Linked DNA regions of Homo sapiens: all the other regions are linked to region 2. Evidence: fine-mapped expression QTL. A gene starts in region 2. Each other region holds a variant in brackets. All regions are shown on one strand. Distances are from middle to middle.

Evidence for each region. PIP is the estimated chance that this variant, and not a neighbour inherited with it, causes the effect.
Region 1: its variant is the best candidate, but not a certain one, in a credible set for the expression of CEP128 in aorta (GTEx, PIP 0.64).
Region 3: its variant is the best candidate, but not a certain one, in a credible set for the expression of CEP128 in monocytes (Quach 2016, PIP 0.78).

Annotation. Positions count from the first base shown.
Region 1 is chr14:81,220,486-81,231,036 of GRCh38, forward strand. GTF2A1-AS1 (GTF2A1 antisense RNA 1) reads left to right here and starts at 733. Exons shown (of 2, transcript NR_135252.1): 1 at 733-1,040; 2 at 1,154-2,895. GTF2A1 (general transcription factor IIA subunit 1) reads right to left here and starts at 474. Exons shown (of 9, transcript NM_015859.4): 1 at 4-474. The coding sequence starts at 33. RefSeq lists silencers at 259-308, 339-638. The variant C/T (reference allele first, on the strand shown) is at 5,369.
Region 2 is chr14:80,936,084-80,946,634 of GRCh38, forward strand. CEP128 (centrosomal protein 128) reads right to left here and starts at 5,655. Exons shown (of 25, transcript NM_152446.5): 1 at 5,498-5,655; 2 at 3,302-3,457. RefSeq lists enhancers at 5,490-5,569, 5,870-5,949.
Region 3 is chr14:80,903,060-80,913,610 of GRCh38, forward strand. CEP128 (centrosomal protein 128) reads right to left here. Exons shown (of 25, transcript NM_152446.5): 5 at 2,896-3,022; 6 at 1,754-1,872. Among named protein-coding and RNA genes, the nearest start is that of CEP128, 33 kb to the right of the region's middle. The variant T/TCA (reference allele first, on the strand shown) is at 6,312.

The sequences.
Region 1 (10,551 bases), 280 kb after region 2:
TACCACGGTGTTTGTATTTGCCGAGTTCGCCATTTCCACACACAACACAAACAAGAGGGGGCAACCCCAAGAAAACAAGATAAAAACAAAACCAAAAAAAAAAAAACTATAACACCCGGAGGGTGACCCAAATCACCGCAAGATTGGGGAAAAAATTTTAAACAAAATCAATCCTGAAGGAGTAGGGGAGAGCGGAGAGAGGAGGAGGAGGGGGGCACTCCTCCCGCAGCTGAAAACCTCGAGAATCGCCTTAAAAAAAAAAAAAAAGCCACGACCCTTCAGGGGTCCGGGGGGCGTTGCCCGCTCCCCACCCCGCGCCAAGGAGGGAAACCACCACCGGTCACCGCTCCCTGCGCCGCCGCTGCCGCCACCGGCTGCAGCTCCAGCCGTCCGGTCCGCCCGCTTCTCTCCTTTATATAGCGAGCCAACAAGCTGCGCGAGCCACCACCGCCGCCGCCGCCGCCGCCGAGAGACAGGGTGAAGGGGGAGGGAGGGGCGGAAAGGGCGGGGGCAGAGGTGGGCGGGGCTGAGCGCGAGACACCGCGAGAGCCGCGTGCGCAGGCGCGCCGGGGCGGAGGCCGCCGGCGAGCCGCGTTGTCACGCGCCGTGGCGGGTACTGGACTGGCGGAGCCCGGGGAGTGAAGTAGTGAAATCGGACCTACGCCTCTCCAACGCTCGCGTGATCACGTGGTTGGCACCCAGGCGGAAGTCTGCGGCAGTTCTTTGCGGTGAAGAACTTGCAAAGCGTTGCTGGAAAAGACGGGAGTTCTACTGACACTCCAGTCCAAAGCTAGGTGGGACCGCCTCCTGTCGCACGTTTCCGCCTGGTCCCGCGCTTTAGGAGCTAGGAAATGTGACAGAGGCGGTGCCTACTGCCTCGCTAGGAATGGCCGCGGAGGAGGACTGGTCACGTGGCGTGGCTTCCGGCCTCTGGCGCGTTCCTATTCGGGAAGGTTTTAAATGCGGAGTCATCTCTTGATTTGTCAGCGAGGCTTTGACTGTGAGCTTCGCGGCGTTCGCGCCTCACCGCCTCACCGAGGGTGGGTCTTTCGCGCGCAGAATTGTGTAGGATTTTCCAAAGGGAGTAAAAGCCGATCGGGGCCTACTTTTAACATTCCACAATTAGTAACGTCTGATTCGTTTGTTTCCACAGTGGGTACGCTGCGAAGACTAGGCTTATGTTACCCAGAGGTTAGTCCTCTACTAGGCCACGTACTTTAAATAATTTATCACGCTAGTGGAAATGCGGGGTGGAAGAAAACCCCACCAGCCTTTGGATTGTAACAGCACAGTAACTTTCCCTGGTTTTTAAAAATATTGCCAAAATACTGCGACTCCATGTGGCCAACGTATAGTGACTGATCACTTTGAAATGCATGCCCTTGACCCACCAACTCGCATGGCCTCTCGCTATAAGAGAGCAAGCCGGCTGTGTTCCATGTTCAATTCAATAAGTGCAATTCAATAAGCTTTTGACTTGTTCTGCCCAAGCAAATCCTGCCTTTATATCGACCTTGCAAGCAGAACAGAGAATGCTGTTTGGAAGGCAGAATTCATAGTACCTAGTTTTCTTGTCCCTGGGAATTTTGAGGGACTTGAAATGTCGCGTGGATGAGTGAGGGAGTTTGTCTTCCAGAGACAAAGCAAAACGAAACGTCAAAGTTCTGTGCTGGTGAAACCAGATTTGAAGAATATCAAAGGCGTCTTACCAAAGAGGAAAAAAAATGCATCTTGCCAAGACTTGAAGAAAGGGATTAGAGAAACCAGAGGCCTTGAATACTCAGAAAATGGGAGATTGTGAATGGGTGTAGAGGATATCTATGAACCTTGACATTTCTTTTCACGCCAAGTCCATTCCCCTGTTAACAGTTGCTTCCCAGTTTCCTGCACAGCTGCATGGTCTGGGACACTTAAAGAAAAAAATCACAGGAAATCAGTGTTCTTGGTATATTATATAAAGTTATGATTCTATCAACATTTGTAATTCATTTAATATTCAGGTGACAGCCCGAAAATTTACACTAAACAATACCATTCCTGTTAAGTTTTACTACATATTGAGAGGACTTCTTGTTACCTCCCTATTACATACTCCCAAACGCTTTGCACATGGAATCCCTCACCTTCCACCTAGTTTTCCCCCCTACTATTGATATTCTTGACTAAAAGGTTGAGTAGTTTCGCCATCAATTAAAGTTAAAACCACTGCAGACAGGACAGGGAAGAAAAGCTACGAGGTTTGCTCTTCACAGAATTAATCTGTGAAATAATGGATTGTAGTTACTGGATTAAAATGGCAGAAAACCTAGTCTTGGCCTCCTTAAGACCATCAGACTCCCTGGAGGCTCTGAGTTGGCTTCTCTCTTTACACCTAGATTGCAACAAGACCTAAGCACTTGGTTAATATTTACCCAGGAACTTAGATTGCTTGTGTGTCTGGCATCTAGCCATCATGGATTCCATTCCAATATATTGGTTTTCCAGTCCCTCAATAGCTGTTATATGCCTTCATTGCAACATATGTGTGCCATCCAGTTTAGTTTCGGAAAGAAATATTTTCTGTTATACCAAAATTGTAGGACTGAATACTTGGAAGCTGCAGCCCTTTAATTCACAAAACAAAATTTGTGAGAGAAAACTTCTCCCAAGTAAGATTACATTTAGCATCATATTTAAATTGTTTCTATCTGAACTTTTTATTCTTGGTCTCCTACAGCTTGAATGACGTTTCTAACTTTAACAGCTCTTTCTACTATATAAAACATTTATACAGGATTTGCTGTTTGTGATCTTACACTTTGTAGCAGCTATGTACTTAGATAGATACATAATAGTACTCTCCTTGTGATGAATGTTTATGTGTTTTTTTTAACTTCAAAATGATTTATACTGGGAGTTAAAATGTTGCGTCTTTCTTTTAATATGCAGCCTAAACACTAGATAACTGTAAAACAAGAGAAGAAAAGGGAAAAAAAATCGATGTATAAATTTTGCTACACCATCAACAAAATGACAGCAAACCTTCTGTGTCCAAACATTTAAATATTTTACTGTCCAAATGACTATTTTAGCAACAATGCCAAGAAAGAGAAGAGTCTAAAAAGATTGTGGAAATTGGCTTAAACTAAAATCTTGTGACTTCCCAGCAAACTCCATTTTCTTAAATAGTGAAGAAAGAAAAAAAACAAAACTAGTTTTGAGGCATATTTAGGCCCTAGTGCTCAGTATGTATTGGGCACTTTGTATGTATGTATGTATGTATGCTCAGTATGTATTGGGCACTTTGTATGTATGTATGCTCAGTGTGTATTGGGCACTTTGTATGTATGTATGTATGTATGCTCAGTATGTATTGGGCACTTTGGGAGGATACAGAATTGAAGAAGAAAGATGCCTTGAGCTTACTAATCATTTTTTTTCTTTCCTTCTTTTTTTTTTTTTTTTTTTTTGAGACAGACTCTTGCTCTGTCATCCAGACTGGCATGCAGTGGTGCGATCTCGGCTTACCGCAGCCTCTGCCTCGTGGGTTCAAGCTATTCTCCTGCCTCAGCTTTCCAAGTAGCTGGGATTACAGACTCACACCACCACGCCCAGCTAATTTTTGTAATTTTGGTAGAGACGGGGTTTCACCATTGTTGGCCAGGCTGGTTTCAAACTCCTGACCTCAGATGATCCACCTGCCTCGGCCTCCCAAAGTGCTGGGATTACAGGCGTAAGCCGCCGTGCCAAGCAAGTTTACCAATCTTAATGAAAGTCCCTGTTTTAAAGTGTAGTGCATAGTCATAGCATTCATTTAAGCTGTTGAAAGCATACATATTTCAGTCCTACCAAAAAAAATTATACTGCATTCAGATTTCACCTATGTTTTTGTCATTTTCAAAGAAACTGCCGATTTTCACATGCACAAATTTTTGATGGTGGCTATAAGAAATTGCTGACCATACAAATTAGTTCTATACATGTGATGAAGAGATTTTTTAAAATCTTTTTAAATTATCTTTGTCTGTTGTAACTTAGTTTGAAATTGCTACTTCATGTCTTAAAACACCAACCAGCTCTAAGTTATTTTCTGTAGAACAAAGTGTAGACCAGTTTGTAGTTTTTAGCAAAAGTAAATTAACTTAGTGTGGAGTTTTGGTGGAATCAGGTTTGACTCTTGCCACTAAATTCCTGTGTGACATTGTGCCATGATTCTGTGTCAATAAGGTGAAATAATCACCACCACCTATCGTTGTTGGAAAATCAAAGGTAGTAGGAAGTGCTTTGACAAGTATTTGGTGGGTGTTTTATTATTAATGGTAACTGTAACAGCTACACCAATATCATCAAAGCTGGGGAAAGATGTTCTTAAATCACTTTGTAGAACACTACCATTACATTTTAATCATGATGGCTGCATGTTGTGGTTCATGCCTGTAATCCTAGCACTTTGGGAGGCTGAGACAGGCAGATCACTTGAGGCCAGGAGTTCAAGACCAGCCTGGCCAACATGGCGAAACCCTGTGTCTACTAAAACTGCTAAAAATTAGCCAGGTATGGTGGCATGTGCCTGTAATCCCAGCTACTTGGGAGGCTGAGGCATGAGAGGCAAAGGTTGCAGTGAGCCAAGATCGTGCCTGGGCACCAGAGCTGGAGACACACTCTGTCTCAAAAAAACAACAACAGCTGGGAGTGGTGGCTCAGGTCTGTAATCCCAGCACTTTGGGAGGCTGAGGTGGGTGGATCACTTGAGGTCAGAAGTTTGAGACCAGCCTGGCCAGCATGGTGAAAACCCATCTCTACTAAAAATACAAAAATTAGCTGGGTATGCTGGTGCCTACTTGTAATCCCAACTACTCAGGAGGCTGAGGCACGAGAATCACTTGAACCCAGAGGCTGCAGTGAGCCAAGATTGCACCACTGTACTCCAGCCTGGGTGACAGAGCGAGACCCTGTCTCAAAAAAAAAATTTTTTTTTAAATAATGATGTCAGTGGCCAATGCTTACTTTACAAGAAACTCAGCCAAATTTTGATAACTCAAGTGGTGAATATCTAACAGCATCCCAGCCTCACAATGCATTTTAAAACTTGTTTTTTCTTTCTTGCTTGCCTTCAGCCTTGAAACATACTTTGAAACTGTTTGTCCCTTTCCCACCAGCCTTTTCTGAGAACAGGGCTCACTTATCTTAATGATGTGCTTGCTTAAAAATTCCAGGGGCCAATTTTGAAACAAACTAGACAGAGAGACCCCAACTGCAGAATCCTCCTGCTCAAGGGGGATTAGGAACCATTAGCCCAGCACTACCAGCTGAGGTCAGGATGACATGAACTGGGCCTTCAGGCAGGCAGTTACTGAAGATGACCGTCAGAAGAAGACACACAGACCTA[C/T]ACCTTCCTGCGCTACTCCTGCATATTTCCCACACCTTTTTGCTTCTTAAACCCCTTCACTCACTCCAAAAAGTTGGAGTGATCTGTTAAAGGCATGAGCCTGTCCATCCCCCAACTGCTAACATTGGAATAAAGTTGCTTTCCTTTCACTACACGTCGCTTCTCATGCTTTCAGCCTCTGAGCAATGAGCAGTCAGACTTGAGCTGGTTATAAGTACGGAGCATATATATATATATATATATTTTTTTTTTTTTTTTTTTTTTTTGGAGATTGAGTCTCACTCTGTTTCCTAGGCTAGAGTGCAGTGGCTCGATCTTGGCTCACTGAAACCTCTGCCCCAACAGGTTCAAGCAGTTCTCCTGCGTCAGCCTCCCAAGTAGCTGGGATTACAGGCGCCTGCCACCGTGCCCTGCTAATTTTTGTATTTTTGGTAGAGACAGGGTTTCACCATCTTGGCCAGGCTGGTCTTGAACTCCTGACCTTGTGATCCACCCGCCTTGGCCTCCCAAAGTGCTGGGATTACAGGTGTGAGCCACCGCGCCCAGCCCACAGCATAATTTTTGTATGTTAATATAATGAGATGATTCCTTAAGCTGAAAGCTGATTTATTGATTAAATATATCAGATTGCTTAGTTACACATGTGCCCAACTATATGTAGTAAAAGTTATGTATGAATTTGCCCATTGACCTAGCAATGCCAAATCTAGGACTCTGTCCCACAGATACTGTAGCAAAAATAAGAAAAGATGTATGCCTCAGACTATTTGTTGTAGGACTGCATTAACACCCATCCTACCATATAAACTATATTTACTTTATATAAAAAGTAAATATTTTATATAAGAAGATTATATAATACGTCCATGTCCCACATGTCCATATAAGGAGGTTGGTTGAATAAACTATAGTACATGCACACAGGTGAGGACTATGCAGCTGGAAGAAGAAATAAGGAATATATATATATATATATATATATATATGCCCACTATGGATTGATCTTTGGAATATAATGCTGAATGAAAAAAGCAAGATGTGGAAAAGTATTCTTTGCCTCCATTTAAGAAAAGAGAAAATACAAAAATGTGTGTAATATACTTGCTTACTATTTTTTTTTTAAAGGAAATATGGCCAGACACGGTGGCTCACACCTGTAATCCTAGAACTTTGGGAGGCTGAGGAGGGCAGATCACCTGAGGTCAGAAGTTCAAGACCAGCCTGGTCAACATGGCAAAACCCTGTCTCTACTAAAAATACAAAAATTAACTGGGCACAATGGCGGGCATCTGAAATCCCAGCTACTCGGGAGGCTGAGGCAGGAGAATCATTTGAACCAGGGAGGTGGAAGTTACAGTGATCTGAGATCACACCACTGCACTCCAGCCTGGGTGACAGAGCATGACTCCCTCTCAAAAAAAAAAAAAGGAAATATAAACCATATGTATGTATCTTTAAAGGTTACCTATAAGGACTGGGAGAGAAGAGTATGGAGAAGACAGAAAAAAAAGCGTTATTTAAATGTACTTTGTTTTTTAGATTTGACTGAAAACACACATTTTACTTAGTTTTTTAAAAATCAACTTTTGAAAAGCAATTCCCCAAACTAAAAATTAAGTTACTTAACCTAACCGGATATTACATAACACACAAAGAACTTTTTCAAGTGACTTTCAAACACAATAATTTGACTAGATATCCATAGTGGGATATTTTTAAGGAGAAAAAGAAATGTCCAAAAACATTTAAGTGTTTGCATTTGTATTGTTGGTGATAATGTTTGGAAATGTATTTTGATAATTTTATGTGAAATGTGGATTAAAGAATACGAGTAATTATATTATGTTCTAATTATCTAATCCCAATTGTTCTTGAGAACCAGGCTCTCAATAGATTGGATAAGGCCTACCTGCATTATTGAGGGCAATCTTATTTACTCATTCACAATGCTAATCTCTTATCATATGGGAGAAAGACGATGCAGATGTAAGGTACAGGAGGATAAGTACAAATTCTGTAGTCCTGAATTTGAATTAGAAGTATCATGGTGAATTTTGTCAAAATTCCCTGCTGGCTCTGAAGAGGCCTAGAAACAATTACCAACACAGTAGTAATGAGTATATTTGGTACCTAAATTATAAGATTTCAAGACCAGTGCTCTGTGGAGAAATGTCTGATTCTGATTCCAAGTCAAGAGCAGGAAATGTCTTTTCTTAACAACAAAAAAAACCCAAACTCAATGTTTCATCTTATAAAATATATTTGTCCCCATAAAAGCTAAAACAAACCATGACCAGTCCAGTGCTCCAGAATTTGGGAGCACCTCTTGCTCCCAGATCATTATCTTGAAATACTATTTTCCAAGGAATAATGGCTCTTCAGAGATATTACTGACTCTAGGACTGGGATTAAAAAAATGTTTAAACCAAATGAAATTACCAATTATTGCCCAAAATAAGACAAAGTGACTCTAGAATATCTTTTCATGTGGATAACAAGTAAGGTGTATTTGTTTCCCAGGGCTGTTGTATCAAAGTGCCACAAACTAGGTAGCTTAAAACAACAAGAATTTGGCCGGGCACGGTGGCTAACACCTGTAATCCCAGCACTTTGGGAGGTCGAGGCAAGTGGATCACGAGGTCAGGAGATCGAGACCATCCTGGCTAATACGGTGAAACCCCGTCTGTACTGAAAATACAAAAAAATAGCTGGCCGTGGTGGCAGAGGCCTGTAGTCCCAGCTGCTCGGGAGGCTGAGGCAGGAGAATGGCGTGAACCCGGGAGGCAGAGCTTGCAGTGAGCCGAGATGCACCACTGCACTCCAGCCTGGGCGACAGAGTGAGATTCTGTCTCAAAAAACAAACAAACAAAAAACAACAAAAACAAACAAAAAAACAAGAATTTATTGTCTGACAGTTTTGGAAGCTAGCAGTTTAAAACCAAGGTGTCGGGCGGGGGGGCGCGGTGGCTCATGCCTGTAATCCCAGCACTTTGGGAGGCTGAGGCAGGCGGATCACGAGGTCAGGAGATCGAGACCATCCTGGCTAGCACAGTGAAACCCTGTCTCTATTAAAAAAAAATACAAAAAAAATAGCCAGGCGTGGTGGCACATGCCTGTAGTCCCAGCTACTCGGGAGGCTGAGGCAGGAGAATGGCATGAACCCAGGAGGTGGAGGTTACAGTGAGCCAAGATCACGCCACTGCACTCCAGCCTGGGCGACAGAGTGAGACTCCGTCTCAAAAAACAAAAACAAAAACAAAAAAACCAAGGTGTCAGTAGGTCCATGCTTTCCCTAACACTGGGTAGAATCCTTATGTGATAGTTAATGTTATGTATTAACTTGACTGAGCTAAGGGATGCCTAGATAGCTGGTGAAAACATTACTTCTGGGTGTGTCTGTGAGGGTGTTACTGGATAATATTAGCAATTAAATCAGTAGACTGAGTAAAGAAGATTGCCCTCACCAGTGTAGGCAGGCATCATCCAGTCTGCTGAGGGCATGAATAGAACCACACATTGAAAGAGTGAATTCATTCTCTCTGTTTGAGCTGAAACAGCCATCTTTTTCTATTCTTGGACATCAGCTCTTCTTGTTCTCAGGCCTTTACATATGGACTAAATTTCAGTAGTCCCCCCTTATACATGGTTTTGCTTTCTGAAGTTTCAGCTATCTGCAGTCAACAGAGGTCCAAAAATATTACATCATCACTCTTGCGCTTTGGAGCCATTATTAAGTAAAATAAGGATTACTTAAATACAAGTATTGTGATACTGGGCCAGTTGATCTGATAACCTGTACGGCTAAGTGACTAATTGTAATTGGGTTGGACAGAGCAGGACAGTGTGAGAGTTTATCATGATATTCAGAACAGCATGTAATTTAAAACTTACGAATTGCTTATTTCTGGTAATTTCATTTATATCACAATGTCCGTGTCATTCATGATATTCAGAACAGTGTGTAATTTAAAATGTATGAATTATTTCTGGAAATTTCATCAGAAATTTTATAATCTCACATCATAACATGAAGAAGATAGGTGAGTGTATAGTACGCTATGATAATTTGAGAACGTTAGAGCAAGTAAGAGACAGCACATAACTTTTATTATGGTATATTGTTATCATTGTTCTGTTTTATGTTATTGTGGTTAATCTCTTGCTGTGCCTAATTTATAAATTAAGCTTTATAATATGTATATACAGGAAAAAATAGCGTATATAGGGTTTGGTACTCTGTAGTTTCAGGCAGCCACTGGGGGTCTTGGAAAACCCATAGGTAAGTGGGGACTACTATACACTATTGGCTTTTCTGGTTCTCTGGATGTAAAAGGCAGATCATGGGACTTCTTGGCCTCCATCATCATGTGAGCCAATTCCCAATGTGTGTGTGGGTGTGTGTATGTGTGCATGTGTGTGTGTGTGTTTGTGTGTGTAATCTCCAGTGGTTCTCTTTCCCTGGAGAACTCTGACCAATAAAATATTTTGGTACTGAGAGTGGTTCTAGAGGAACAGAAAGTACTGATAGTCCAGGGAGTGAACTGTTTCTAGAGATATATAAAATATCTGCATTGGATACTCCTAACTAATAAGAAGCAAAGAGCTAAGTAACTCTGTATATGATACTTTTGAACATTTTTGGACAATGGAAAATAAGGAATATAATGACATTGGTTTGTTGCTTCTAATGTAGGACCAAGTGGTAAAAGAAAAGGAGGGGCTCAGGATTCAAATTTCCAGCTCACTCACTGTATAAATGACTTAAAAACTTGTAGTTGTGCCCTAAGAAATCATTAACTCCTGTAGCCACAGGGCTAAAATTGCTGAAAATCAAACCCAGGATCTCATTGTGCAATTGGCTGAATTACAAAGCAAGTTGAACTCCCAGCCTCACGTGATATCTACTGTTAAAGTGATGGCATTGGTTGAGAAAAAGTGGGATCCTGTAAGATGGGATGGGGATATGTAGGAAGAGCCTGATGAAGCTACAGACATTGAGACCCTAAATTCTGATGCATCTTCTTTGCCAGTGGAAGAGGTTTCTCCATCCCCAGCAAAAGTAACCTTCCCAATCCCAGTGAAAGTGGCCTCCCCACCCTAAATGGCATAGGTCTCCCCACCTCTGGTGGTAGCAGCCTTCCCACCCACAGTGGTTTCCGTATTTCTACCTCAGTCTGAGGTAT
Region 2 (10,551 bases):
AGAATCAAATGGACCAGTGCCTGGGAAGTACAGAATTAAAGCTCATCCATTCATTCATGAGCACATTCGTTCACAAGCACTTATTCATCCATTCATGAGCACCTGTTTCACAGCAAACCCTGTATGCAGAGTAGATTCTAAATGTTTATCAGGCCAGGCACAGTGGCTCAGGCCTGCAATCACAGCACTTTGACAGGCCAAAGTGGGAGGATCACTTGAACCTGGGAGGTCGAGGCTGCAGTGATCCAAGATGACACCACTGCACTCCAGCATGAGTTACAGAACAAGACTTCATCTCAAAAGAAAGAGAGAAAGAGAGGAAGGAAGGAAGACAGGGAAGGAGGGAAGGAGGGATGGGAAAATGTTTATCAGAATGAATTAAATGGATTCATGTAACCACAAATACTCCCATCTCCCAAATACCCCAAGCACTAGCATTATAGAAATTTCAGAGAGGTGTGCATATCCGATAAAGGCCTGACAAGTCTCTGAGTCATTCATAATTAGTGATAACAAGATACCAGAAACAAGCTTTAAAAACTAAAAGAAAAACTCACAAAAATATTTGCATTATATGGGAACCAAAGGGTTAATCAGCTCTTTCAAAAACACAAGAAAAAGAACAGTCCAGTTGTAAAAGACTCAAAAGATACATAAGCAGACAATTCACAGAAATCAAATGACCCTAACAAATGTTATTTGTTATTTCACTAAATAATTACAAATTAAAATAATAAAATGATATTCTTATCTATCTGTTTTATACAGATGAAAAAACCTCTCACTCGCAGGGTTAGCAAGGTTATACCTTGTTGTAAGAGTATTAACTATAAAAACTACATTAGCATGTATATCTACTATGTACCCACAAAAATTAAAAATTTAAAAAAAAAAAACCACATTAGCTTTTCTGGAGAACAACCTGGCAATACAAGTAAAAATAAATAATACGGGCCAGGCGCAGTGGCCCATGCCTGTAATCACAGTATTTTGGGAGGCCAAGGTAGGAGGATTGCTTGAGCCCAAGCGTTCGAGATGAGCCTGGGCAACACAGTGAGACCTTGTCTCTACAAAAAAATAAAACAAAATTAGCCAGGTGTGGTAGTGCACACCTGTAGTCCTAACTACTCGGGAGGCTGATGTGAGAGGATTTCTCAAACCTGGGAGGTAGAGGCTACAGTGAGCCAAGATAGCACCACTGCACTTCAGCCTGGGTGACAGAGTGAGACCCTGTCTCAATCAATCTGTAATATACATAGACGTTGACCCAGAAAATCTATTTCTATGACTATTAACCTAGGAAGATAAAATATTTATATATATTTTATGTATAGACATATGCATAAGAATTTCACTGTAGAAATTCTTCAGAAATTTTAATTCACTCATCCATTCATCCATGAGCACATTCATTCACTCCAGCCTGGGCAACAGAGTGAATGAATTTTTTTACAGTTGTAAAAGAATAAGAAAAAAATATAAATCCACTGGATAAGCATACAATAAATGTATCTAATCACTGGGATACTATGTATCTGCTAAAAGAGACAAGGTTGAATGGTAAGTGCTGACCTGTAACAATACATTTTACGAAAAAAGAAAAACATACTATACAATAGTATGAATGTATTGTAACTACTTTATATCAGAATCAACCCAGAGACATTACATGGATAGTGTATTCTATAATATACATGCTAATATAGTTTTTAATAACCTGGTAAATCTAGATTATTTTTATATTATTTCCAAAATTTCTGGACCAGATTATCCCAATAGGTCCCCCATCCAGCTCTAAAATTCTTTAATCCTAAGAATTTTTTTTTTTTTTGAGACAGCATCTTACTCTGTCACCCAGGCTGGCATGTAGTAGTGTGATCACAGCTCACTGCAGCCTCGACCTTCTGGGCTCAAGTGATCATTCCACCTCAGCCTCCCGAGTAGCAGGGACCAAAGGCACATGCCACCATGCCTGGCTAATTTTTTGATTTTTTTGTAGAGACGGGGTCTTGCTATGTTGCCCAAGGTGTTCTAAAACTCCTGGGCTCAAGCGATCCTCCTGCCTTGGCCTCCCAAAGTGTGGGATTACAGGCATGAGTCAATGCACCTGGCCTAATCCTATAAATTTTGTACACCACTGATCTTAATACACAGTGTTAGTATTTTTTTTTTTTTTTTTTTGAGACAGAGTCTTGCTCTGTCGCCCAGGCTGGAGTGCAGTGGCGCGATCTCTGCTCATTGCAAGCTCTGCCTCCTGGGTTCATGCCATTCTCCTGCCTCAGCCTCCCAAGTAGCTGGGACTACAGGCGCCTGCCACCACGCCTGGTAATTTTTTTGTATTTTTTAGTAGAGACAAGGTTTCACCATGTTAGCCAGGATGGTCTCGATCTCCCGACCTCGTGATCTGCCTGCCTCGGCCTCCTAAAGTACTGGGATTACAGGCGTGAGCCACCGCGCCCGGCCACACAGTATTAGTACTGCAAGTCCGCAGTGTGTCTCCCCTCTATGTTTCAGAGCCTTTTATCTATCGAGCACAATATGAAATCCAAAAAAAGGTCCAGAATTTTTACATCTATGTTGTAAATTTAAACTTTAAACATTACACCCTTAATTATCAATGATAATTCATGTTGAATTTATTTATGGAAATCACAAATTATAATGATCTCTTACCTCAATAATAATATAAGGACCACTATATTTTTTTTAAAAAACTAAGAAAGATAATAGAACTTTTTGAACATTGAAAGAGATGAATAACTGCACACTGTGCCATATATGGTCCACTTAATCCAAAAATGTTAAGTGTGAATCAAATTCTATTAGAGGGCACTTATAAACAGCAATGAAGCCCCTTGGCAGTGGGTGGGACTGAAATTTGGAGTCAGAAGACCTGGGAACAATGATCACTCTTTTGGCTCCAGAATCCCAAGCAAATTAAATAACCTGAGACTCAACTGTCTCCTTTGTAAAAGATAAGCATGGTAAAGGAATTATATAATGCCTGTAAAAGGTGTCTGACAGAATGCCTGAGACAAAGCAGGTTCTCAATTCCTTGCTTAATAGAAACAGGTACATCACTGTTGCTTTTGTTAAGGTTATAAAGGATATCTCAACTTATCTACTTTGTTCATCTGAATTTTTGCAACACTGCATACACAATCATTCGATATTTTATTTTTAAACCATATATTAGAAGGGGCTTCTTGCTCCCAAAACTCTATTTCTTGGCATAGTCTTTTCTACCATAAATATGCAAAAAATGTGTTATCTCAGAAACTCAGGGAGAAAGCATACTTACAAAGCACACCCCCAAAACTCCGAGTTGCTCTTCTCTGAGCTCAACGCTCTTTTTAGGCACATATGTCTGCCTCCTATCATTTCTTCATGAGGTTCAGGGCAAAGGGCCTAGTCAAGCCGATGATCTTTGGTTGCCCCTACACTTTCCCCAAACCACCTACAAATAAACAAAACAAGGGGGTAAGACATACCTACAACTTTAAACATTTTTAAATAATGAAATATGAAAATTAAGTCCCTATGTACAGACTATGGCATAACACAGAATAGAGAAAATGCTCCTAGAATGATTCAAAAGCCCAAGAGACCTCACTACAATTCTTCACATCCAAGTGCCCAGCCCACATATTGTCACTGGTGACTTCCATCCATGCCTGGGCATCCCTGGGGCTTGCCAGAGAGTTCATGCTCCAGTGTGAACCGCAGCCCAAGTCTAGCCAAAAAGTACTATGTATGAGCATGTCTAAAAGTTGGTAACTAAGTCAGGTAATACAGTTAACATGTTACTGCTGAATGTGGTGACCCAATTATACTTCCAAGCCAGTCTAACACTCCTAAAGGAAATATTTTATAAGATGCCCAGTTCTTCCCATACTCAGTGCTACAATTAAATAAATAAGAATAAAATGCCTTTGGTTGTAGAAAAGAGCTGTGGACAGAAATATTTTCAATTAATTGTGACTGCTTTCAAAGCAATCTGTAAGAATCCACAGGAAGTGATCCAGAGAACTGGGAGTTGTCTACATAAAAGGTAGATCTGGGAATACATCTATAAACCATTTCAAGAAAAAAAAAAGGTATTCTGAAAAAGTTAATCAAAATAAACTGTCAAGAAACAGTTCAAAGAGACCCAGGTTATGCAATGGCAGACAAGATACGCTGAGAGAACATAGGCACAGTGCACACTTCACTCTTCTAACAAAACAGCCACCATCACCCATGAAATGAGTCATAGGCACAACCAAATTTATGTGTGCCAATGTGAAACTGCCAAAGTTTTAACCTTATCTCTAGTGCTGTCCAGTACAGCAGTCACTAGACACATGGCTACTGAGCTCTAGCTCTTGCCAGGTCAAACTGACATGTGCTATACATGTAAAATACACAAGAGATTTTGATGACTTAAAATATTTTTTTTTTTAATGTACAGCCAGGCATGGTGGCGAGTGCCTGTAATCCCAGCTACTCCGGAGGCTGAGACAGGAGAATCGCTTGAACCCAAGAGGTGGAGGTTGCAGTGAGCCCAGACCGCGCCACTGCAGTCCAGCCTGGGCGACAGAGCCAGACTCCTCAAAAAAAAAAAAGTAAAAATCTCAATAAGTTTTATATTTACTCCATTGAAAACATTTTTCTATATTGCGCTAAATAAACTATTATTTAATTTCACCAGTTTCTTTTTACTTTTTTAATGTGGGTACTACAAAATTTAAATTCACCTGAGTGGCTCACACTGTATTTGTATTAGACAACACTAATCTGCATAATTAATAAAAAATAAACAACAAATGCTGAGCACTTGCAGGGTGCCAGGCACTGTGCTAGATACTTTACATAATACTCAAATCAATGCTGCAATTAATGGTAAAGTTTTACCAGACGCCTACATAACAGATTGGCTCCATCAAACCAATAAAAGATGCAGCTGGGATTCAATGTCAGGTATTTTTACGAAATAATTCAATTAAGGGACTGCTAACAGCTAAGGCTGGAGCAAATCCTATGATGGCACGGGAAAGAGAGGTCACTAATAAAGCGTTCCCGAGAGTAGCACGCTTTCTGTGACTACAAAACAGGTATTAAAAAAAAAATCAAATTTGCTTGCAGGACAGGCAAGCAAATGTCAGACGGTCCTCTGGAGGACCTACCGAATGAGTCCAATCTCCTGTCCCTTAAAGCTTCACAGATGCTAGCGGTAGAGCAAGCTGCTCCCAAAGGAAGGACAATGTAGTCCAGATTCGCTGGGTAACCTGGCCAGGACCTGACCGCGGACACCCCTGCCGAGGGAGGGAGGCCTCGGGATGACAGGCGCGCCGTCTCCCCTCACCTCTGCACACACTCCACCCATCCACGGCCCCACCCCAGATCCCGCGCCGCTCTGAGGTCCCCACCCCTGGGACGAGGGGAAGTGGGACTAAAACGTCTACAGTAAGACGGGGAAGTGGTCGAAAAAGGGCAAGGGGGAGGTGGGGGCAGGTACCTGAGACGGAGGATGATCCCAGCTCCTTAATGCCGGATCATCGCCTAGGCCCCACCCGGCTCCCGCGGCTACCAGTGACCCAGAAGGTGCAACTGACCAAACGCAGCGACTCAACCGACTGTGCTCTCCCCAGACTCGCAGCTATGGCAACTTGAACTAGCCGCCCAGCCACAGCAAGAGTACAGGACCCCGCTGCCGCCGCTTGGCCCTCTGGGAGTTGTAGTCCATCTCGGCCTCATGATCAAGGAATTACCAAGGGAGAGAGTCCCGAAAAGGAACTGCAAATCCCAGGATGCCATATAGCTGGCCTTCGGGTAACTTTCCCGGATAAAAGCCTGATCCCTTGGCCGCGCCCTCTTGCCCTGCTCTATTTTTTTTTTTTGTTAAAGGACCAGCCTCCTTTGTAGGAGGCAAACTCCAGTTAGAAAGTGAATAAAAATGCTTCCTTGGCCTTGACTGTAATTTTACTCCTTGGGGGACAAAAGGAGTCCCCCAGGACTACGGTAAGATGGGGAAGTAGAAAAAGGGCAAGGGAGCGGTGGGAGGACAGGGAAAGACAATTTCTAGCACTGAAATGTAAAAATCCCCTTAATACCAGGGTCCAGTATATTGTTCCAAAGACTCACAAATTCTTAGAAGCGGACGGGAACAGAGAAGATTATGTAGGCCAACCTGTTTGGCCTGGAAAGAGTAAGGGACTTGCCTAAGATCATATGGCTTATTCACGGCACACCAAAAGTAGATGTGAGGCTGTCAGCTCATTACTGCTGCTACTTCAGTCTAGGTGTCATCTCCTCACTCTAGAACATAAAAGAAATGTTTTCCACTCAGGGGAGTTGGTTTCAGTCACGAAGAGAATGAAAACCTCAATAAAAAACTGAACTTTGGAAAGCTAAAAAGTAACAATTAAATTAGTCATATGAATTGCCCTTCTTCTCTGCCAAAAAGACCACTTCCCCTTCCTTCTTTGAGGCTAAACTCAAATATTACCTGATCTGTGAAAGCTTTCCTGGCTACGTGAAGAAGAGCTAGATCATGTTTAATAACAAGGGTTCCTTAATCTAATAATTCTGTGCTCTATAATCCATTTCCCAGTTGGTCCCCTCTATTAGCCCTTCAAAGGGACCTAACCTTTTTTGTACATTTTTATCTTTCTTCTCACCCTTTCCTCACTTGCCCTTCTCCGTTCATATCCCTCTCTCTCTTTCTTTCTCTCTCTCCCCCTTTCTCTCCTTCCATCCCTCCTTACCCCTCCTCCCTCCCAACAGGCAGAGTCATAAATAATTAGCACATAAATTTGATATAGTCGTATTATTCAAATTTTTTTTCTGGCCAACACTGAGACATAAAACTATCTCATATTGGTTTGAACATAAAATAATTCTTCCAAAGACCTCCTATGCATTTGCAACTATCTTCAAGCTGCTTACTTGAAATTGTTCCTCAAGAATACACTCCACCAGACAGAGTTTAAGATAATTCAGAACAGCCATAAAATTGCCCCATATACATGCAGAAGCATAATAATAACTGTTTATTTGTAAACATTTTAACTTTCAAAACAATTCTATTCATTTATGTAATTCAGCAAATGTATGCTGTATATTTCTAGTATCCAGACATTGTTTTAGACACTGAAGTTGCAGTGAAAATAAACAACATAGACTTTGCTTTCAAATTGCTCAGAGCCATGTGAGAGAAAAAGACAATAAATGATTACAAATCTCTGTGTAATAGAATACTGCATAGGTTTGTATGGAAAGACATAAAAGAGAAACTTTCTGAAGAAGTGATAATCAGATCAACTGCAGGAGAAATGTCTACCAAAAGAGCTAATGTAATCACGAGCTACATTAATAAAAACTGATTGTCCACAGCTTTTCCTCCCTGGTTCAACCATATTTAGAGAATTGGATTCTATTCTATAGGCCTTATTTTTCAAAGTGATATTAACCAAATAAATCAAACATTACAGGACACAACTGGGACCAAAGGGTTAAAAATCAGATATTTTCGTTCATTTTGATCAAGAAATGCTTAAATATGTTACTAAATTCATAGCAGCTGTTTGTCAGCTTTGGTGTGCTCTCAGTCAACAGACGTGGCATCCCAAAAAAATGTAGTGAAGTCAGGCCAGGGGTGCTGACTCAAGCCTGTAATCCCAGCACTTTGGGAGGCTGAGGTGGGTGGATCACGTGAGGTCAGGAGTTCGAGACCAGCCTGGCCAACATGGCGAAACTCCATCTCTACTAAAAATACAAAAATTAACCAGGTGTGGTGGTGGGCACCTGTAATCCCAGCTATTCGGCAGGCTGAAGCAGGAGAATCATTTGAACCTGGGAGGTGGAGGTTGCAGTGAGCTGAGATGGTGCCACTGCACTCCAGCCTTGGTGACAGAGTAAGACTCCATCTCAAAAAAAAAAAAAAAAGTAGTGAAGTCACATCACTGAATCTTTGTTTTTTATGTCTTAACAAAATAGACAAAATGAGTTAAAGCCGACAAAATGAGTTAAACCAACAAAATAGATTTTACATGAAATTGTCTCATAACTCCCAAAGATATGTATTACTTTTAATCAATATGGCCAACACACATTATACAAACACAATACCATACTCAAGCAGAATCATCTGAGCTTAGATTTAGAAAAACCCACAAAGAGTATTGATATGGTCTGGCTCTGTGTCCTCACCCAAATCTCTTGAATTGTAATCCCCACATGTTGGGGGAGGAACCTTGTGAGGGGTGATTAGGTCATGGGGCAGTTCCCCCACGCTGTTCTCATGATAGTGAGTGAGTTCTCAGGAGATCTGATGGTTTTATAAGAGGATTTTGCCCACTTCTCTCTCCTGCCACCATGTGAAGAAGGATGTGTTTGCTACCCCTTCTGCCATGATTGTAAGTTTCCTGAGGCTTCCCCAGCCATGCAGAACTGTAAGTCAATCAAACCACTTTCCTTTGCCAGGTGCGGTGGCTCACGCCTGTAATCCCAGCACTTTGGGAGGCTGAGGCAGGCGGATCACGAGGTCAGGAGATCGAGACCATCCTGGCTAACATGGTGAAACTCCGTCTCTACTAAAAATACAAAAAATTAGCCAGGTGTGGCGGCGGGTGCCTGTAGTCCCAGCTACTTGGGAGGCTGAGGCAGGAGAACGGCGTAAACCCGGAAGGCAGAGCTTGCAGTGAGCCGAGATCGTGCCACTGCACTGCAGCCTGGGCGACAGAGTCAAGAGTCTGTCTCAAAAAAAAAAAAAAAAAAAAAAAAAAAAAAAAAAACAGAAAAAACAGAACAAAACAAAAAAAAAAAAAACCACTTTCCTTTATAAATCACCCAGTCACAGGTAGTTCTTCATAGCAGGGTGAAAACAAACCAGTACAAGTATCATTTGCAGTACCCTTCTTTTGCAAACCATGTATTACAGATAGGGGCACACAGAGGTTACATGATGTATTAGTTTACTAGGGATTTGATTAAATACCACAGAATGGGTGACTTAAACAACAAAAATTTATTTCCCACAATTCTGAAGGCTGCAAGTCCGAGATCAATGTGTCAGCAAGTTTAGGTTCTCCTAAGGTCTCTGTCTTTGGCTTGCAGAGATCCATCTTTTCTCTGTATCCTCAGATAGGCTTTTCCCTGTATGAGCACATACATGGTTTCTCTCTCTTCTTGTAACGACACCCGTTATCTTGAATTAGAACTTTATACTATAGCCTAATTTAAACTTAACTACCTCCTTAAAGGTCCCATTTTCAAAAACAGTAACATGGGGGGTTAAGATTTCAACATGTTTTCCCCAAAATTGTACCTATTCAGGATTAGTGTCATCAATGATCTCATTACGTAATACCTTGATTGAGGTAGATGCGGGAGATATTTTTGATATGCCTCACCCACATCACCCCTTAAACTGGGAATGATTCTACCCACTGTGTTGGGCCCCTATAGCCTTGTTTATGTTATACAAAGCCCCTACCTGTCTCACCATGGCTGATTAGACAAGGAGTAGAGAGACACCTGAGACAATTTGGGCCAATCAGGCTCTTTATCCTTTGAGAATTTAAAATGGGCACTCAAGCTCCCAATTGGTTGCTAGAATAGTCTTGATGTACGGGTAAGAGCTGAGGCCGCCATAGAGAGGTGACCATCTTCACCTGTGTTCAAGAAGCAGCTGACAATGCTAACCTGCACAGACAGAGAGAAGTGAGTAAAGCAGTGAAAGGAAATAAACTACACAACCACGAGGAAATGAGCCCAAGAGAATACAGCCCCCGTTCCTGACAACTTCCAAGTTCCTGGATCCAAGCCTTGTTATTCCCATTTGTATTTCCTGTACTTGTTTTCCACAATACACTAGTGGCAACTAGAGGTGGTTAAATGCACAGATTCTGGACCCAAACCACTTGGATTCAAGTCCGTTATAATGCCTATCAGCAATGTTACTTCAAACAAGTTACTTAATCATTCTGTGCCTTCATTTCTTCCTCTTCTAAATGTGGACAATAAAAATAGCACTTCATGTGTAGAGGTGTTTGGGGGATAAAATAAATTAATGTGTGTAAAGCACTAAGCCTAGTGTCTAATTCATGGTAAGCATTATTGAATGTAAGCTGACATTATATGTAGGCTGACAAATACTATGACATCCTAAAAATGTTAGTTCCATGAATATTGGTACTCTATTATTTTGTTCTAGACACTTAGAACAAAGAATTTATTAATACCTTGATGCCTCATGATGCATCATGATGATGCCTCATGATGCATCATGATGATGCCTCATGATGCATCATGATGATGCCTCATGATGATTTCCCTTTTGAAGCCTAAGATTAGTTCTGTTGATTGAAATCTAAAGAGCCTTGACTAAGATTATACTAATGAGATCACCAGCCTGTAAGATCCAAGATGCTAATTCTAGATCTAGTTTCCTGAGCAGTTTATCAGAAACACTTTTGAACCATACGAAACATTAAATACCTAGAGGAACTAATCAATAAAAAGGTTCTGGAATGGGGCTAGTCTAAAAGCATTGACATGACCATCCTAACC
Region 3 (10,551 bases), 33 kb before region 2:
TGAGCTAAAAAGAACAAAGCTGGAGGCAGCATACTCCCTAATTTCAAAACATTATAAAGCAATTGTAATCAAAACAGCATGGTACTAGAAAAAAACAGATGCATCAATCTACGAACAGAGGAGAAAACCCGGAAATAAACACACACATTTGCGGTCAACTGATTTTTTATGAAGATGCCAAGAACACACAATGGGGAAAGGATAGTGTCCTCAATAAATTGTGTTGACAAAACTGCATATACATGCTAAATAATGAAATTAGGCCCTTATAACACACAAAAAAGTCAACTCAAAATGGAGAAACACTTAAATATAAGACCTGAAACTGTAAAACCACTAGAAGAAAACATAGGCAAAAAGCTCCATGACTTTGGTTTAGGCAATGGTTTCTTGGATATGACCCCAAAAGCACAAGCAACAAAAGCAAAAAACAGGCAAATGAGATCACATCAAAATATAAAGCTTCTGCATAGCAAAAGAAACAATTAATAAAGTGAAGAGACAATCCACAGGATGGGAGAAATATCTGCAAACCATATGTCTGACAAGGCGTTAATATCCAAAATATATAAAGAACTCAAACAACTCAATAGCGAAAAAAAAAAAAATTTAAAATGGGCAGAGGACCTGAACAGACATTTCTCAAAAGAAGACATACAATGGTCAATAGGTACATTTTTAAAAATATTCAGCAAAAGTAAACTTTAGGAAAATCCAAGTTAAAACCACAGTGAGATATCACCTCACACCTGTTAAAATGGCTTTTATCAAAAAGATGAAAGATAAGTGTTGGACATGACATGAAGGAAAGGGACCCCTTGTACCCTACTGGGAACGTAAACTAGTACAGCCATTATGGAAAACTGTATGGAGGGTCTTCAAAAACTAAAAATAAGACTACTATATGACCCATTAATCCCATTTCTGGATATATACCCAAAGCTACTGAAATCAGTATGTCAAAGGGATATCTGCACTCTCATGTTCATTGCAGCATTATTCACAACAGCCAAGATCGGCAAACAACCTAAGTGTCTATCAGTGAATGAATGGATACAGAAAATGTAGTATATATACACAATGCAATACTATTCAGCCTTTAAAAAGGGAGAAATCCTGTCATTTGCAAAAACATGGATGAATCTGAAGACATTATGTTAAGTAAAAAAGGCCAGGCACAGAAAGACAAACACTATATGATCCCACTTGTGTATGAACTCTAATAAAGTTTAACTCATAGAAAGATAGAGTAGAATAATGGTTACCAGAGGGTGGCGGGGAGAGGGGGTGAAGAGGGAGAGAAAGGGGAGTTGTTGATCAAACAGTCCAAAGTTTCAGACAGACAGGAGGAATAGGTTTTGAGATGTATTGCACATCAGGATGACCAATGTCAATAATAATGTATTATATATTTCAAAATAACTGAGAGAATAAATTTCAAATGTCTCACCATAAAAAATGATAAGCAAGGTGATAGATGTTAATTAACTTGATTTGATCATGCCACATTGCATACATATATTAAAACATCATATTATACCCCATAAATGTATACAACTATGATTTTTCAGCAAGAAAACAATAATAAAAAGTAAAAGTCGTTTACTTGGTTCCAAAAAAAGGGATCAGTATAAAGTTACTAATGATCAAATTCTTGGTTAAAATATAGCCTTAAAGTTCAAGCATTAGTCATTTATATACAATAGAAGCATAAGGAAATACTGCACACAAATTACAGAATGGTACAAAGTACCTGAGTCATATCATCAGTCTCTTGAACAAACCGGACACCAGTTCTTGATCTCATTCGTTTAATACCCTGTGGATCCCCATAGTCCTTGAGAGGTGAGGTAGGTGGAAAATGATGGAGCTCTTCACAAGTGAAAGAAAAGGGAAGGTATTAAAATACTGCATGAGAAGAGACAATCTAAAATTTTACTCAGTACAAACATGGCAGACATGGATATACATATATTCATGTCCCTAACCCAGACTATTTCCCAAGTATCTTGCTATGGCCATAAAGTTCCACCAAATTAGCATTAATCATGCTCTTAAAGCAGATAAAATGAACAACAGAAATAACCTGGAAATAGAACACTCAAAAGTTTCAATTTGTTATACTCTCCAAGAAGCAACATATTTTCTCATACAAAAATAATAAATTTCTAAATAAAAAACTCATATGACCCCTTAATATAACTTAATACTAAAAAAAACAACTTTTCAAACTACATAGTCTACAATCTGAACAGCATATAAAAATAAAAACTAACTACATGAAAAAATAGTGCCCAATTTTTAATCATTGTTACCATAATCAACAGTAATATTAACGATGTAAGGTACCAATGTTCAATTATCTAAATCACCTTCCTTCACTGCAGGCTTTTCGATTCAAACATGAATCTCAGTGCTATACAAAAGTGTAAGTAAGATTAATTAAGACAAACTGTCATAAGCTTTAAGCTAGCCATTCATATCTACCTGCATGCCAAGACTAAAATTCACCTGGTCTTAACAAGCATCACAGGGTATTTCATAAAACATGTGAAAATCTATTACGCTAGGACAGGATACCTAACCTAAAGTGTATCACATAGCGAATTTATGTATTTGTTTTGATTCTTTGGCAGCAGACAATTAAATCTAAGTTTTTGTCAGGTAAAGCTCTAATGTGGTCTACAGAGTTTGAGAAAAAAAAAAAAACAATATAACAACAAAGACCCTTCAATATATTTCAAAGCATGTACTATAAAATCCTTGACAACTACATGTACTATCATCCAATCTGCATGAAGTTATGTGTGGGTCATATTTCTCCAAAAATTAAATGTATTCAATATCTACTTCAAAAATATTTTTAATGTTTTTCAGAACATTTGAAGTGTTTACCTGACCCAGTGCCACCATCAAGGTCACTTGCACTCAAACTTGTAACAGAAATACTTCTCCCTCCTGAGTTTCTCAATAAACGTTGACTCCGGAGTTGGTCGATTGATTGTTCCAAGCTTTCTTTTAACTAATTTAAAGAATATAATGAATGAAGCGTTATTCTTCTTAAACAACTTCCAAATACAAATAGACCACAGATTTTCAAAGCTATTTCTGAAATATCTGGGTTCCCCCCAAAAAAAGGTATCAGAAAATTTTAAACTAAGTTATGTTTAAAATATAAAAATAGTAAATACAAATATTTTAAGAACCAATGCTAAAATCTGGTTTTAAAAGGCATCTGTCACTACCTATTCCATTTTTTATTGCCAGATGTGGAAGAGATGTCTACTGTGTAAGGGCTTACAAAACCAAATTGAAATGTCTAATTGGTGCACCACTCATGCGAAGAAACATAACAAGGTCAACACAACTGAAAGAAGACAGAAAGCTTTCCTCCCTTCTAAATATTCCTTCAGAAACTCCAGGTCTACAACAAATAGGAAACTAAACAGCTGTCACAGTGACAGCTGCTACTGAAACAATGTACACTGTCCAACTTTATCAGAGTACCTCTTTCAGTCATTCAAAGACTTCAAATCCCAGAAAATGATTGGGTCAGATATCAGACTGCCAGTACACACTAAGAACTACAGTTGTCCAAATGCTTTATTCAGTTTATTAAGGAGTCAGCCAACAGGGAACATATAAAAACATACCTTTAGACTTAAAGAGCTACATTAAATAAAAACATGCTAAATACTGAGAATAATGTCCAGAGCTGTACACAACTATAGGCCTGAGAAGAGGATTCGACTAAGACCCAAGGGAAAAAAAATTAAAGCTGAAGAAAATCCATACACCCTGAATTGCTGGGAAACTTCGGGTCTAGATATCTTATTCAAGGATGAATAGAAAGTAATAATTTTAAACATAATGCATGGATCCATGGAACAAGTCATCTATAACTCTTTAAGTAGAATGTCAAAACAAAATGATTAGTTGAGAAGACAAGGTTTCCTAAATTCAGCCAGCGTTAAAAGGTAGAACACCATTTACGGGGAGAACAAGTTGCTTTACTTGGTGAAATGAGCAGAAAGAAAGGAGCCTCAACCGAAGGAAAAGAACAGATGAAACAGAATGTGAGTCACAAATGAAGCAAACCCTTTTTCAGTCTGGCTATTTGGATTTGGCTGCTCTAATTGAAACAATCTGTATTAAAAGAAGTAGAGTTAGAATTTCAGGAAGCTGCTTCTTTTGTCCCTCTCATTTCCGAAAGAAAAAAAAAAGAGGGGTTTCCACACCCCTCTGTCTCCTCCTTACCTAAACTGGGATATGTACAATACCATCCTGCCTTGAGTATTCGCCAGCCAGCTATAAGATGCAGCATCGGCGGTTGCTCGCGCCTGTAATCCCTGCAGTTTGGGAGGCTGAGGCGGCTGGATCACTAGGTCAGGAGTTCAAGAATGGCCTGGCAAACATGGTGAAACCTCGTCTCTCCTAAAATACAAAAAATTAGCCGGGCATGATGGCTGGTGCCTGTAATCCCAACTACTCGGGAGGCTGAGGCAGGAGAACTGCTTGAACCTGGGAGGCAGAGGTTGCAGTCAGCTGAGATCGTACCACTGCACTCCAGCCTGGGCGGCAGAGCGAGACTCTGTTTCAAAAAAAAAAAAAAAAAAAAAACCTCAGCATCAATCCACAAAACATACTATGAGGCCCAGGAAAACCAAGGTTTACCTTGAGAGTAATTTACACATAAGTAAAATAACATATAAGTAGACCAGAGGTCTTATGTAGTGATCACAAAGTAGTATATCAGTAATCTATGACAAAATTATCAGAATAAAACTAAACAATATTAAAGCTAAAAAGCTCAAATTCAAACTGTAACATGAGAAACAGACTAGAAAAGTCACTACAGTGATTTTGATCATAAAAATTAGCGTCAGAAATAAAACGTAAAATCAGCTCTCTTAACTTTTGCTGTGTTTATTATTTCCATCTTTCAAGCTAAACTCAATTTCAGTATCCTTTTGAAAGCAGAGTCAGCTATCATTTCTTACTACTGCTTCTTTTTGAAGGTAATCTGCCTTTTCAGCTCTGGCTATTTTTAAGATTTTCTCTTTACTTTTGTCAGTGATTTTATTATGTATCATTATGTACAGTTTTATTTGTATTTATCCCATTTCCGACCCACAGAGATCACAAAATCCATAGCTTAATAAATTTCATATGTTGTAAATTCTCAGGCATCATCTTTTCAAACATTGTTTTTGCCTCATTCTCTCTCCCCTCTCCTTCTGGAAATGCAACTGCATTTTAGTTATACCTTTTTACCAAATGCTGTTATGTCTTCTTTTCTCTTCTATATTTTTTCAATCTTTCATTCTTCCATTCTTTTTGGATATCTTATGCTGGTTTATCTTTCAATTCATGAATTCTCTTTCAACTATACACAAGCTGTTGTTCACTCTATTCATTCAAGGTCAGTTGGTTATTTATTTATCTTATTTTTCAGTTTCTGAAATTTTCATTTGGTGCCTTTTAGTTTTCAATTATTTTCCAAAACTCTTAATCTACTCTTTTAATTTCTTGAACATGTTATTCATGGTTACCTTATAGTCCCATATATGTTTCTATTGTCTGCTTCTTCCCTTGGTTTTCAGACACCTTTTATATTCTCTTATGCCTGTGTATTCTTTATCATGTGATAGACATTTTACATGAGAAGTTGTAGAAATAATTTAAAGTTCTAGAGGATGACATCTTTCTTCAGAAAAATCTGGTTCTGCTTCTAATAGAAAGTCAGGTTAGGGTCACTAGCAATCTCAAATCACCTTAACCCAGTTAGGAACTGAAGTGGTTCAAGGACTGGCTTCTGTCACCGTGAAGGCTGGTCTATTTTCAGTTTATCACTTCTCATTTCCAATTCACCACTTTGCCTATACTATCACCCTTTGGGGTCTCCATTAAAGCTAAAGGGTTCCTGAACTCCAGCTTTGGTCTTCCTAGCCTCTTAAGTTAATTGATAACTCTGATCCTAGCCTCTCTGCTTTTAATCCACCTCTTTAGGAATCAGCTATCATCTTGAAGGAGGAAGAAAGTCCCAAATATAAGACTTACCCTTCTGGACTTAAGTTTTTTGCCAGATTCTGACTACATAATTCCTCACTGCCTTAGTAGTTCTTTGATGGATTCATAATATTATTTTTTACTTTTTTTTCATGTTTCTAGTTGTTCTCAGTAGAAGAGTTGATCTGAAATAATCTTACCTACCAATGCCAAAAGCAGATCTTGCCAGCATCCTTTTTATGTAGGCTTATTTGCTAACAAATCCTAAGCTGTAACTAAAAGCTCAGAAATAAAGTGAATTT[T/TCA]CACACACACACACACACACACACACACACACACGCAAACTCCCTGCCACCAAAAGAAAAAAAGTTACCATGGGACATAACAGAAGAACATTAAAGAACAAGAGAAGTGAAACACTTCCCCAAAATCTAATCTATCAACCCCATTTTAAAACTCTAAAAAGATATATCCGAAGCCATTGAAGATGAATAGGATGATTTTTAAGGTCCAAAAAATAAAATTACGTTATGTAAAGGGAGATGAATGAAATAAAGGCGATTTTAAATTACTCTTCCAAGCATTATGGCAAAAACAATTTTTGCACCTAAAACATAAAACTAAAAATGTAATAGAATTAAAATCTACACTTTAAGTAGTCACAACACAACACAACAGACACTGCACAAAATTTAGTGATGTATGGAGCCAATTTGATAACTCCTAAAACACAAAAACCAAGAAATAAAGAGACAAAGTACGAAGTCATAAAAATTGTTTTAAACTCTTTTGGATTATAACATCTTACTAGGTGTAACGCCAAACCAAACAAAATTAAATAAAAACAAAATAATATTAATAAAACTCAATCTAACATTTTCTATGATGGATGATGTTATTTTCCTAAAACTAATCAATCTTACCAAAGACTGTGGTACTAACTACAATGTTATAAATTCTTTTGAGTCTACTAGGACTACCTCACCAGATACCAAATGATGATCCTATTTTCCCCCACTTTCCCCTATATGAAATATTGTAAAATGGACATCATAGAACATAATATAATGTATATTAATATCTCACTTGATATAAATGCATGATTTAAAGATTAGGTCTATTCTTTTACCTCTGTTCTTTTGATATTAGACTGAAACAATGGAAACTACTGTGCACCAGTATAAATGCAAATAAAATTTGGGCACTGGAATTGAATGGCTATGATCTGGATCTGGGTCCTCACCGAATTCTCATGTTCAATTATAATTCCCAGTGTTGGAAGTGGAGCCTGGTGAGAGGTCACTGGATCATGGGGGCAGAGTTCTTATGAATGGTCTAGCACCATCCCCGCTTGGTACTGTATAGTGAGTGAGTTATCATGAGATCTGGTTGTTTAAAAGTGTGTAGCACCTCCCCACTCCTTCCCGTGCTCCTACTCCGGCCATGTGATGTGTGTGCTTCCCCTTTGCCTTCCACCATGATTGTACGTTTCCTGAGTCCTCCTAGAAGCTGAGCAGATACCAACATCATGCTTCCTATACAGCCTGTGGAACGGTGAGCCAATTAAACCTCTTTTCTTTATAAATTACCCAGTCTCAGGTAGTTCTTTATAGCAATGCAAGAATGGACTAACACAGGTAGTTTATCCAAATCATCAAGACATGCTTTTTCTGACTTAAGCATGTAGTAGGCTCCCTCTAGCCAAAGATAAAACAATTTGAGCATAAATAAAAATATTAACTGCAATGGACTAAAACACTTTAAATATGCATATAATTGTAAGTTAATAATGATACTCAAGGGGTAAAAAAAGTCATTGGTCACCACAAGAAGATGTAGGAAACCAATTATTTTGGAAACTGATATATAAATGAACTGAAAAATAACTGTAGATGCTTTTAGATTACCATGAAAATAAAATAACTAAATTTTAAAATTCTCACAGAGATCTCTGAAAGCCTTTTGATATCTCTATTTGGAAAAACTCTGATTAGAAACAAAATGTAACTCAAGGTTAATGAACTCAAAAAGAATGCATATAAAACGCAAAAGGATTGACTACACTCCAACCTAAATCTATGAAAGGAGATCATCTGGGCAACAATGGGTAATGCAAATAACAGAAGTGATCATTTAAAACATTATAATTCAGGCCGGGTATGGTAGCTCACGCCTATAATCCCAGCACTTTGGGAGGCCAAGGCGGAAGGATCACTTGGGCCCCGGAGTTCAAGACCAGCCTGGCCAACATGGTAAGATCCCATCCCTACTAAAAAAGTAAAAAATAAAAAGTAGCCAGGTGTAGTGGTACACAACTGTAGTCTCAGCTACTCAGGAGGCTGAGGTAGGAGAATTGCTTTAGCCCAGTAGTTCAAGGCTACAGTGAGCTGTGATTGTACCACTGCACTCCAGCCTGGATAACACAGTAAGACTCTGTCTCAAAATAAGTAAACAAATAAAATTTTAAAAATAGAAATATGTGATTCAGAAGGACCAAAGAAAAGCTTCATTTGCTTTCTTCAGCTGTACTACTTTTACTTCTGCCCCCGCTCTTTTCTGCATCTTTCACACCCCATCAGATAACTTTCTAACTTTCTTACATGTTTTATTTTGTGGATGAAATAAGATGATCTATGTAAAATAATTAGAACAATGCCTGAGGTAGATTTGGTCGTTCAGTAAATGATACTTTTTATCATTATGATTAAAGGCAATGACAATAAAAGTAAAAAATAAATAGAATGATGAAATAGAATGCTTTAATCTGGAGAAGCTATTTTAAAGAGTTTGTCATTCCCTAAACATGTATTTACAACTCAGATGGAAATACCTGTTGAATTTATTTACTTCCCACTTATAAAACCACTCCCGGGCAGGGCACGGTGGCTCGTGCCTGTAATCCCAGCACTTTGGGAGGCCAAGGCAGGCGGATCACAAGGTCAGGAGATCGAGACCATCCCGACCAACATGGTGAAACCCCATCTCTACTAAAAATAGAAAAATTAACTGGGCGTAGTGGCATGCGCCTGTTGTCCCAGCTATTCGGGAGGCTGAGGCAGGAGAATCGCTTAAACCTGGGAGGCGGAGGTTGCAGTGAGCTGAGATCGCGCCACTGCATTCCAATCTGGTGACAGAGCGAGACTCCACCTCAAAAAAAAAAAAAACTACTCCCTCAGAAAGTTTAGCATTATTCAACTCTAGGCTTACCACAGAGACTTGATGACAATGGATCCCTCGTTGAAAATTGCTTTCTTAACATTACAATATTTAGTGCTATGGAATATATCATACCTCAAATTGGGTATACATAATTTAATTTCCCAACTGCCCAATTCAAAGGAAATCTGCTACCCTAAGTAGGGATCTAATATTCAACTTTACAAAGTAGGACTATACTCTACTAATGGTTAATAATAATGTTTTCAATTTTTCACTAATAAATTAAAAAGCAAAGACTCAATTCCCATTATTAATAAGGTAATGAATCTGAAACATTTCATGAACTGCCCAAATATAACAAAGTCTATAGAGCTCCATTGGTCAAGTACATCATAAATCATAAAAATCCTGTAAATACAAGGATGTCCAAACTCATTTTCTAAATAAAAATAGTAGAAACCCTTATGAGAGAAGATATGTTTCCCTGTGCCCATTAGCTTGCAATTACAAGTGATTAATGACAACTATACCTTTACTTGTAAAAAAAAATAATAATAATAACAAGCCGTCAATTACAACTTGGGAGTTACGTGACAATTCAATACAACACAGATATGTATAAAACAGTCATTATTCCTTCATGTTTCCAATGATAGGTACATATACAATGTGATTTTAGTGTTTTCATCACACTGTATATATACCCCTCATTAGAAACATGAAGGAATAAGTTTAATTGGTTTTCCAAGAGTTTACAGGACAGGAGTAAGCAATTCCAAAGGAAAGAAAAGTAGAAGATAGAATTAGTAAGACATTAATTAAAAATACATTATTAACTTTATTCCAGAACTCTGGAGTACATTTTTTTCTTACATCCCCATGTAAAGTAAGTATAAACTGGAACATCCTTGAAAGGGCAATTTTGAAATATCCAGCAAATTTTTAAGTGCATATATCCTTTAACCCTGCAATTCTACTTCCAGCAATCCTACAGGATTACAAAAACATATGTATGTGTGTGTACAATAATGGTCACTGCTATAATGTTTATAATAAAAAGAAAAACTAGATACATTCATACTATGGAATACGGTATAACTGTTCAAAACAATGAAGTAGTGCTACACAAAGTTATATGGAAAGTGATATACATTATTAAATTTTAAAACGTTGTATAACATTATATTTAATATGATTCCATTTTTAAAGCAAATCGCACATATGCTTGTAAATACATAGAAAATGTTTGGAAACAAGCTCTCAAAATTGTTACCTCTTTTGAGTGGGGCTCAAAGGGAGGTTGGATAGAATTGGAGGCCATTATCCTAAGTGAAGTAACTAAGGAATGAAAAACCAAATACCACTTCTTCTCGCTTATAAAGGAGA